Homo sapiens: one gene and its partner. The protein of the gene in region 2 interacts with the protein of the main gene of each other region in a biochemical or structural test. Each region holds a gene or a part of one and is shown on either strand. Other genes may lie near its edges.

Region 1 (7,040 bases), on a different chromosome or scaffold from region 2:
ACTATCCCAGCCTAGTCCTGGAGGCAGGGAAAGGCCATACCAGAGTAATGGTCCACCAGGGCCTGGAGTGAGGGGAAGGTGAGGCGCGGTGAGATGTACAGCCAGCCATTGTCAAGGCAGTGGATCCTGTAGTGTCTGATCCGGTCCCAGGATGCAGGGCGGCTGAGGCGGACTGACAGAGAGTAAGAGCCTGAGGAGAAAGGGGTCCAGGGGTGGCACTGAGGCCCTGCTGGGACTCGGCCCCACCTAGGCTGGGAAACGAAGATAGGCAACGTGACCATGGGGCCCCGGCAGAAGGGAAGTGTCTGGGGCAGAAGCAGGACAAAGACTTGCTCTCTTGGTCATCAATAATATGTTCATAATAGATGGGGGTCTTGTGAGGGTGAAATCAAATCACACACAGAGCCCTCAGTACAGGGTCTGGCACTGTGTGAGTGAACATTCAGCGTTGGCTGTTCTTACAAAGACTCAGGTGGCAGATATGTTAGGATGCAAAAACACTGTCAAGAAGATGCTGGCAAGGAAGTGGAGAAGTAGGACCTCCCACCCTGCTGGTGGAAGAGAAATTAGTACGAGCCACCTTGGAAACAGTTTGGCATTAACTAGATGAGCTGAACATGCACGTACCTTACAACCCAGCAGTTCTTCCCAGGCACAATACCTCAGAAGCACACAAGCAATATGCACAGCGGCATTGTTTGTAAAAGTCAAAAACGGCAAACAGCCCGTTTGTGCTCAAGAGTAGAATAAATTGTGGATTATAGAGTGTAGTGCTATACAGCAGTAAAAATTAATAACTGCTACATATAAGCATAAGGAAATCTTGGAAATTAAGCAGAAAAACATTACAGAGCATACATTCAGCCTGATTCTATTTAAAGTTCAAAGATAGCCAACATGACATTATATGTTGCACAGGCACACACGGCAAAGCTCTGAAGAAAAGCAACTGAATGATTAACACAGTGAAGCATGAGAGGGGGCTACAAAGGGCTTGTTAGGTAATTTCAGCTGGCAAGTGGGCGCGTGGATGTCAGTTTTATTAGTGCTGCTCAACCTACATGTATACATTACATACACTGATGAATGACAGTTTCACCAGCTTTGCATGTTTCATTTTTTCATTTTTTTTTTTTATTTTAATTTTCTTTTTTTTTTTTTTTGGAGACAGAGTCTCCCTCTGTTGCCCAGGCTGGAGTGCAGTGGTGCAATCTCGGCTCACTGCAACCTCCGCCTCCTGGGTTGAAGTGATTCCCCCGCCTCAGCCTCCCGAGTAGCTGGGACTACAGGCGCCTGCCACCACCACGCCCGGCTAATTTTTTGTATTTTTGGTAGAGACAGGGTTTCACCATATTTGCCAGGCTGGTCTCGAACTCTTGACCTCGTGATCCGCCTGCCTCAGCCTCCCAAAGTGCTGGGATTACAGGCATGAGCCACCGCGCCCAGCCAGATTTTAATTTATTTTTAGAGCCATGCTCTCGCTCTGTTGCCCAGATGGCGTGCAGTGGCATGATCACAGCTCCTGGGCTCAAACAGTCCTCTTGCCTCAGCCTCCTGAGTACTTGGAATTATAGGCGTGAACCACCCCGTGCCTGGCCATATAAGCACATTTAAAATATTAAAACAGGCTAGGGGCAGTGGCTCACGCCTGTAATCCCAGTTCGAGACCACCCTGGCCAACGTGGTGAAACCCCATCTCTACTAAAAATACCAAAGTTAGCTGGGTGTGGTGGTGCACACCTGTAGTCCGAGCTACTTGGAAGGCTAAGGCAGGAGAATCACTTGAACCCAGGAGGCAGAGGTTGCAGTGAGCCGAGATTGTGCCACTGCAGTCCAGCCTTGGCAACAGAGCAAGACTCTATAAATAAATAAATAAAAAACCCAAGGCCGGGGACGGGTGCAGTGGCTCACGCCTGTAATCCCGGCACTTTGGGAGGCCGAGGTGGGCGGATCACCTGAGGTCAGGAGCTCAAGAACAGCCTGACCAATGTGGCGAAACCCTGCCTCTACTAAAAATACAAAAAAAAAAAAAATTAGCCAGGTGTGGTGGTGTGCGCCTGTAGTCCCAGCTACTTGGGAGGTTGAGGCAGGAGAATTGCTTGAACGCAGGAGACAGGTTGCAGTGAGCCGAGATCACACCACTGCACTACAGCCTGGGCAACAGAGCGAGACTCCATCTCAATTAAAAAAATAAATAAACAAGGCTGGGCAGAGTGGCTCATGCCTGTAGTCCCAGCTACTCTGAAGGCTGAGGCAGGGGGATTGCTTGAGCCCGGGAGGTGAAGGTTGCGGTGAGCCAAGATTGTGCCACTGCACTCCAGTCTGGATGACAGAGTGAGACCCTGTCTCAAAAAAAAAAAAAAAAAAAAAAAATTAAAACAAAAGTTAATGGGCCGGGCGCGGTGGCTCACGCCTATAATCCCAGCACTTTGGGAGGCCAAGGCAGGCGGATCACAAGGTCAGGAGATCAAGACCAGCCTGGCTAACACAGTGAAACCCCATCTCTACTGAAAATACAAAAAATTAGCCAGGCGTGGTGGCGTGCGCCTGTAATCCCAGCTACTCAGGAGGCTGAGGCAGGAGACTCGCTTGAACCCAGGAGGCAGAGGTTGCAGTGAGCCGAGATCAGCCACTGCACTACAGCCCGGGCGACAGAGTGAGACTCCGTCTCAAAAAAATTAGTCCAGGCGCAGTGGCTCAAGCCTGTAATCCCAGCACTTTGAGAGGCTGAGGCAGGCAGATCACGAGGTCAGGAGATCAAGATCATCCTGGCTAACACGGTGAAACCCTGGCTCTACTAAAAATATAAAAAATTAGCCGGGCGTGGTGGCGGGCGCCTGTAGTCCCAGCTACTCGGGAGGCTGAGGCAGGAGAATGGCGTGAACCCAGGAGGCAGAGGTTGCAGTGAGGCGAGATCGTGCCACTGCACTCCAGCCTGGGTGACAGAGCGAGACTCCGTCTCAAAAAAAAAAAAAAAGGCTAAAAGTAAAAAGATGGAAAAAAGATATATCATGCAGACAACCATAAGTAAGCTAGAATGGCTTATTAATGGGAGAATGTTAGTGGGATATTAATATCAGACAATAGAATTCAAAAGACTGGAGTGCAGTGGCATGATCTTGACTCACCACAACCTCCGCCTTTCAGGTTCAGGTGATTCTCCTGCCTCAGCTTCCCAAGTAGCTGGGACTACAGGCACGTGCCACCATGCCCGGCTATTTTTTTGTTTTTTTAGTAGAGATGGGGTTTCACTATGTTGGCCAGGTTGGTCTTGAACTCCTGACCTTGTGATCTGCCCACCTTGGCCTCTCAAAGTGCTGGGTTTACAGCTGTGAGCCACTGTGCCCGGCCAACAAATTTAAAAGGATTGAAATCATTAAAAATATGTTGTCTGGCCACAATGGAATTAAATTAGAAATTAATAAGGAAAAGGTATCTAGGCTGGGCGCAGTGGCTCAAGCCTGTAATCCCAGCACTTTGGGAGGCAGAGGCTGTTGGATCACCTGAGGTCAGGAGTTCAAGACCAGCCTGACCAACAAGGCAGCCTGACCATCTGTACTAAAAATATAAAATTAGCTAGGTATGGTGGCACATGCCTATAAATCCCAGCTACTTGAGAGGCTGAGGCAGGAGAATTGCTTGAACCCAGGCAGCGGAGATTGCAGTGAGCCGAGATTGTACCATTTCACTACAGCCTAGGGAACAAGAGTGAACTCCATCTCAAAAAAAAAAAAAAAAAAAAAAAAAAAAGTATCTAGAAGCCAGGTTTGGTGGCTCACGCCTGTAATCCCAACACTTTGGGAGGTTGAGGTGGGCAGATCATTTGAGGTCGAGAGATTGAGATGCGTCTGACTAACATGGTGAAACTCCATCTCTACAAAAAATACAAAAAAATTAGCCAGGCTTGGTGCCAGTAATTCCAGCTACTTGGGAGGCTGAAGCAAGAGAATTGCTTGAACCTGTGAGGTGGAGGTTGCAGTAAGCTGAGATCACGCCACTGCACTCCAGCTTGGGCAATGGAGTGAGACTCTGGGGGAAAAAAAAAAAAAAAAAAAAAAAGGCTGGGTGCGGTGGCTCACACCTGTAATCCTAGCACTTTGGGAGGCTAAGGTGGGTGGATCACCTGAGGTAAGGAGTTCAAGACCAGCCTGGCCAACATGGTGAAACCCCATCTCTACTAAAAATACAAAAATTAGCCAGGCATGGTGGCACACGCCTGTAATCCCAGCTACTTGGGAGACTGAGGCAGGAGGATTGCTTGAACCTGGGAGCAGGAGGTTGCAGTGAGCCAAGATCACGCCACTGCACTCCAGCCTGGGCAATATAGCAAGACTCTGTGTCAAAAAAAAAATTGGAGAGACTGAAGTGGGAGGGTCACTTGAGGCTAAGAATTAAAGACCAGCCTGGTCAACATAGAGACCCCCTTCCCATGTCTGTACAAATTTTTTTCTTTTTTTTTTTTTTGAGACAGAGTCTCGCTCTCTCACCCAGGCTGGAGTGCAGTGGCGCCATCTCGGCTCACTGCAAGCTCTGCCTCCTGGGTTCACGCCATTCTCCTGTCTCAGCCTCCCAAATAGCTGGGACTACAGGTGCCTGTCACCACACGTGGCTATTTTTTTTTGTATTTTTAGTAGAAACGGGGTTTCACCATGTTAGCCAGGATGGTCTCGATCTCCTGACCTTGTGATCCACCTGTCTCGGCCTCCCAAAGTGCTGGGATTACAGGTGTGAGCCACCGTGCCTGGCCAAAAAAAAATTTTTTTTTAATTAACCAGGTGTGGTGGTGTGAGCCGATAGTCACAGCTACTCAGGAGGCTGAGGCAGGAGAATCACATGAACCCAGGAGGCAGAGGCAATTATTATGCCACTGCACTCCAGCCTGGGCGACAGAGCGAGATTCCACCTCAAGAAAAAATAAAAACAATGCTGGGCGCGATGGCTCACACCTGTAATCCCAGCACTTTGGGAGGCCGAGGCGGGCAGATCACGAGGTCAGGAGTTCAAGACCAGCCTGGCTAACATGGTGAAACCCCATCTCTACTAAAAATACAAAAATTAGCTGAGCGTGGTGGTGGGCGCCTGTAATCCAGCTACTCAGGGAGCTAAGAATCACTTGAACCGAGGAGGCAGAGGTTGCAGTGAGCCGAGATTGCGCCACTGTACTCCAGCCTGGGCAACAGAGCTTGACTCTGTCTCAAAAAAATAAAATAAATAAAATAAAGAAGATACAGAAGAATATAATTTGAGAGACCTCTGAAAAGTATGGCAAGATTAAAACCATAGAAGTTATGGAAGACAAGCAGAGTCGAAAAAAGGATTTGCTTTTGTAACTTGATGATCAAGATATAGTTTTTAAAATTGTTCAGAAATACCACACTGGCTTTTTTTTTTTTTTTTTTTTTTGAGACAGAGTCTCCGTCTGTTGCCCAGGCTGGAGTACAGTGGTGAAATCTAGGTTTACTACACCCTCCGCTTCCCAGGTTCAAGGGATTCTCCTGCCTCAGCCTCCTGAGTAGCTGGGATTACAGGTGTGCACCACCAAGCCTGGCTAATTTTTGCATTTTTAGTAGAGACAGGGTTTCACCTTGTTGGTCAGGCTGGTCTCGAACTCCTGACCTCGTGATCCACCCGCCTAGGCCTCCCAAAGTGCTGGGATTACAGGTGCGAGCCACCACGCCCAGCCAGAAATACCACACTGTTAATGGGCATAATGGTGAAGTGAAAAAGGCCCTTACTAAATAACAGAGGTAGCCTGCTGGATGGTAAGTAGTCGTGGAGGTGGATCTGGCAATTTTACAGGTTACAGAGGAAACTTTGGAGGTAGTAGAGGTAATTTTGGCTGCAGTGGAAACTTTGGTGGAAGAGAAGACTGTGGTGGTGGAGATGGTGGCAGCAGAGGTAGTTATGGAGGAGGTGATGGTGGCATCAATGATGGTGAGCCTGCTTATAGCAGTAGACGGGGCTGCTGTGGTGGTGGAGCAAGATATGAAAACCAAGGTGGTGGATATGGTGGCGGTGGCGGAGGATATGATGGTTACAATGAAGGAGGAAATTTTGGCGCTGGTAACTATGCTGGTGATGGGAACTATAATGATTTTAGCAATTATAGTGGACAACAGCAATCAAATTATGGACCTATGAAAGGAGGCAGTTTTGGTGGAAGAAGCTCAGGCAGTCCCTATGGTGGTGCTTATGGATGTGGTGGTGTAAGTGGTAGATATAGTAGCAGAAGGTTCTAAAAACAGCAGAAAAAGGCTATAGTGTTGTTTTTTTTTTGAGACGGAGTCTTGCTGTGTCACCAGGCTGAAGTGCAGTGGCGCGATCTCGGCTCACTGCAGGATCTCTGCAGGAGAATCGCTTGAACCCGGGAGGCAGAGGTTGCAGTGAGCCGAGATCGCGCCACTGCACTCCAGCCTGGGTGACAGAGCAAGACTCCATCTCAAACAAAACAAAACAAAACAAAAAACAAAAACTGAACATCACTTGCTTAACAATGAGGATAAATGTAAAATTAAAATTTATTTTAAAAATAAGAACTAAACATTGGCCAGGGACAATGGCTAATGCCTGTAATCCAAGAACTTTGGGAGGTGGAGGTGGGAGAATCACTTAAGCCCAGCCAGGAATTTGAGACAAGCCTGGATAACATGGTGAGAGTCTTTCTCTACAAAAAATTTAAAAATTAACCAGGCATGGTGGTACATGCCTGTGGTCCCAGCTACTCCAGAGGCTGAGGCAGGAGAATCGTTTGAGCCTGTGACGTTGAGGCTGCAGTGAGCCATGACTGTGCCACTACACTCCAGCCTAGCCAACAGAGGAAGACTCTGTCTCAATCAATCAATAGCTGAACATTGGCTGGGTGCGGTGGCTCACACCTGTAATCCCAGCGCTTTGGGAAGCCGAGGCAGGTGGATCACCTGAGGCCAGGAGTTCAAGACCAGCCTGGCCAACCCATGGTGGAAGTTGCAGTGAGCCAAGATCATGCCACTGCACTCTAGCCTGGGTGACAGAGCAAGACTTGATCTCAAAAAAAAAAAAAA
Region 2 (3,684 bases):
CCCCATGGAAAGCCACACCCTCAGTCTCCTCTCCAGCTCCAGTAGGAAGGTCGAGCCCGAACGAGGGCCCTTACACGGACTCCTGGCTCTCCCCTGCTAACCACACTCACTTCCCAGCCTGGAAACAGAATTCATTCACCTCAGAGTCTGCAAGGACCTAGCCAGCAACCTCTGCCCTGGTCAGCAGGGCTCAGCAGTCAAGGAGCCTTATCCTTGCAGGCCGCCGGGGCCCTTGGACAGAGCCCAACCAGCCATTTTCCCAGGCTGGGCTAGGCTGGGCAGGAGCAGGGGCCAGTGACCAGGCCTGATGTTTGGCCACTTTCTGCCCAATACGAGCAGATATGCAGATGAATGTGTTTGGGACAGCAATAATACAGGAGGTTTTGGTACCAAGACTGAAACTTGGAGAGAACCTTCCTCCCCTGTGTTTTGTGGAAAAAGGTTCTCTGAGCTGGGGTTCATCCGGCAACTGCTGCCCACCCACCCTGATGTTTGCCACCCACACCCCAAAAGCAACTTTCCCACGACTCACATGGCAGCTTGTGCACTTCTTTTATTATTAAATATATAAGCAGCTTCCTATCTTTTAAATAGATATTTAAATGACTTTATATAAAATAATTCACCACTTCCAAGTATAAAAACAAAATCTCACAGTGCGTGAGCCAATGTCCTCTCTTGACTTCTCAGAGAACAGAAGGGGTTCCTGAGCAGGTAGCCTGGGGGGACACCAGAGGTGGCTCTGGGGCTCCTCCTGCTCTGATGCCACCAAGTGCTCAAAAAGAGCTTCTGCAGTGGGTTGGATTGCTTTTTTGACCTTTAAAATATTATATGTTTAAGGTAGGGGGATGAAGGGGGAATGCCTTTTTATTTTTCTTCCATTTAAAAATATGTGTTTTCTAGCATCAAATATAGAGGCTGTGACTAGAAGGCTAAGCCCCATATGCAAGTTCACTGCCCTTCCCTAAGCTGTCGGCATCAGGACAGGGAAGGTGGGGCCAGCCGACCCTCACTTTCCTGGGCAGGAAGGGAAAGTCACGGGGCCCAGCGGCCAGGTAGGGCAGGGTCTCTTAGCGGAGGACAAAGGGCGGCAGGAGAGGAGGCACACAGCAGCACAAAGGAACCCAGGGGCAACTGGCAGCCCTGTCGCTCGTTGCCTAGGCCTCAGAGCCACCACCACAGGCTGGCCACAAAGTGGAGGCCCTCCAGGCATTGGAAGCTGAGGCCTGGCTCTCCTGATTGCTCTCCCACCCTGGCTTGCCTGGTTAGAGGTGATGGTAGAGGGGGTGGGTGAGAGTTGGAGGTCATCACTGCTGACCAAGGTCAGGAGGAAAGAAGGGTGAGAAGTGGATGGGAGCTGGATACCATGCAGGTGGGGCTGAGATGCAGCCCAGTCCAGGGCTCCTGACAGGGATAACCTGTTCAGCCCCAGGTTCCTGTCGGCAGCAGGGAAAGGACACTGCGCTGGGGTTTGGGAGTGCAGACCCTCCCCCAACCTCAGGTGCATACCTATATTTCAAAGGCCCATCTTCAGTCAGAGCTCGCCCTGTAGCCTCTCTGTCTGTGCCCTCCCCTCCCTTGCTCTCTCCCACTAGTCCCTTCCCTCTTGGGAATGTCAAAGTGCAAGATGCAGAAACCTGGGCGAACAACACAGCCTAAAGACCGGCTCTGGCTGGCGGCCCAGGAGGTTCTCCCACCCCACTCCACTCCGGGGAGTCAAAGGCCAGGTCAGGAGAAGGTCAGGGCTGAGGGGCTCCCTCAGTCGACTGGTGAGGCCAGCTCAGTGCAGGAGGCTGGGGAGAGGCTGGAGAGTGGAGGACGGACGGATGCTGGCTCATGGATGGACGGGGGCAGGCTGTTCAGCAGGCAGGTACAGTGTTCACAGTGCAATGGCTTCCTTCATGAGGGGAGCCTCTGCTTGGCCTCCTGGAGAAGCTCTGGCAGGTGCTGGAAGGAGGAGGGGCAGAGGCCAGTGCTTGATCCCCCTCTTGGCATCACTGGCAGGTCAGGCAGGTCCTGAGGGCAGGGCTGGCCTCCCCTCTGCGCCTGGCAACCAGCACAGGGCACTTAGGTGAGCCGAGGGTGTAGACCCTTCAGGCTGTCAGTGCAGACCAGCAGGTCCAGAGGCCTCCTCTTCCCGTCTCTCAGGCTGCACACCTTTACGGGAAATCAGGCCGACGCTGTCCCGCCCCACGAACTTCAGGCTCCTCTCTCTGGAGACAGGTCCATGCCTGTCCAGGCTGGGATACCTTGGCACCAGGCAGGCCCTCTGGGTGCAGGGTTCTTTCACTCCTCAGCGTCCACCCTGCTTTCCCACAAACCACAGGCCGGTGGGTCCCTGGCCTGGGTTCCGGCATGGAAGGGAGTGAGAGGAGGGTGCAGCCCCTGAGGGAAGAGGGTCCTGAGCCGGGCTCACCAGCCTTCCTCAAGCACATGGGAGCCTCCAGGGCTCACAATAAATAGTGGCAGCATGGGGAGCATCCTCTGGCCTCTCTCATTCAGTCAAGGGTCTGCGGGTTGAGACAGAGGGGCCCCAGCCTGGCTGCTCTGGTCCAGTCCTGGCAGGCAGGAGCTCTGGTGGAGGGCAGACCACATTCCAGGAGGATGGCCAGGGAGGGGTGGTGGTGGACGCCCCATAATGTCTCCTCCCACGGAGAGACTGTTCTGTGCGTCCAGCTGTGGGAGAGAAGGAAAGGCTAGTCAGCAGAGTGGGAATGCGGGGAGGGTCGTTGAGGACATGGATTGGGAGGTGTGGCATTCCTGTGGGCTGCTGGCGGTGCTGCAGGCAGGACTTCCTTTCCTCCCTTCCCTGGCCTTTCCAGACACCACAGAGAGACCAGGCAGCTTTCTCTGGCACCAGCCCAGGCCTCTGGCCCAACTGGCCTCACCTCCTACCTCCTCCTGGGGAATCAGGGCCTCAGTGGAAGATAACGGGGCCCGGGAGAGGTCTGGGCAGGGCTGGGAAGAGGGGTTACTGCTCAAGCAGAGGGCTCTGACAAGGAGCGAAGCGGGCACTTGAATGTCTTTGGACCCCTCCTCAGGCGAGGTCATCTCATTGGCCTTGGTCCAGTGAACAAAGGGTGATTCCTGCTAACACTAGCAAAGAAGAATCTTTCATTTCATCAGAGGGGCATCACATATGATGTTCAAGACAGTAGGGCAGAGCTAGCTGAAGAGGAACAACTTGGGCCAGAGAGGAAAAGTCTAGAGGCAGTGCCAGGACAAGGAAATTCCCACACTGTCATTTGGCACGCGACCCCTAAGCAACCCAGCCCCTCCTGGATGGGCCGAGGGCCTTGCCTCCCGCATCATCCATGGGAGTCAGGGCCTTGTCCTCTCGCCTTCCACCCCCATCCTTGTCCTCTTGCCCAGCATCCTCAGGACGCTTTGTTCCCAGAGCAGAAATCCCCTGGACCCCATCCAACAGTTTGACTTTGGACCTTGTGTGGAGCCTCCCTCCCTAACATCCATAGGCCCTACTGGGTAAGGAGGGAAGATGGAACCACAGCCTCTGGCTCCCTGCCCATTCCCATGCTCTAGAGGGAAAGAAGGGGAACCATAAACTGGACATGAGCCATGCTGGGTACAGCCAGGCCACAGGCCCAGCTAGGGCCCAGGAGGGGAGAAGGACCCAGTGAGCGAGTTCCAGCCTGCTGCCCCATCTTCTAGCTGCTTAGGGCTGAG

The links. The genes of interacting proteins can lie anywhere in the genome.
Region 1: the proteins of CSF1 (region 2) and SLA2 form a complex in vitro, tested with the Homo sapiens proteins (one study listed by BioGRID).

Annotation. Positions count from the first base shown.
Region 1 is NC_000020.11:36,615,185-36,622,224, forward strand, and holds part of SLA2 (src-like-adapter 2), read right to left. Parts: intron 191-7,040; coding exon 41-190; intron 1-40. UniProt on the Homo sapiens protein: Adapter protein, which negatively regulates T-cell receptor (TCR) signaling. Inhibits T-cell antigen-receptor induced activation of nuclear factor of activated T-cells.
Region 2 is NC_000001.11:109,927,844-109,931,527, reverse strand, and holds the end of CSF1 (macrophage colony-stimulating factor 1 isoform a precursor), read right to left. Parts: intron 2,677-3,684; 3' UTR 536-2,676; downstream 1-535. UniProt on the Homo sapiens protein: Cytokine that plays an essential role in the regulation of survival, proliferation and differentiation of hematopoietic precursor cells, especially mononuclear phagocytes, such as macrophages and monocytes.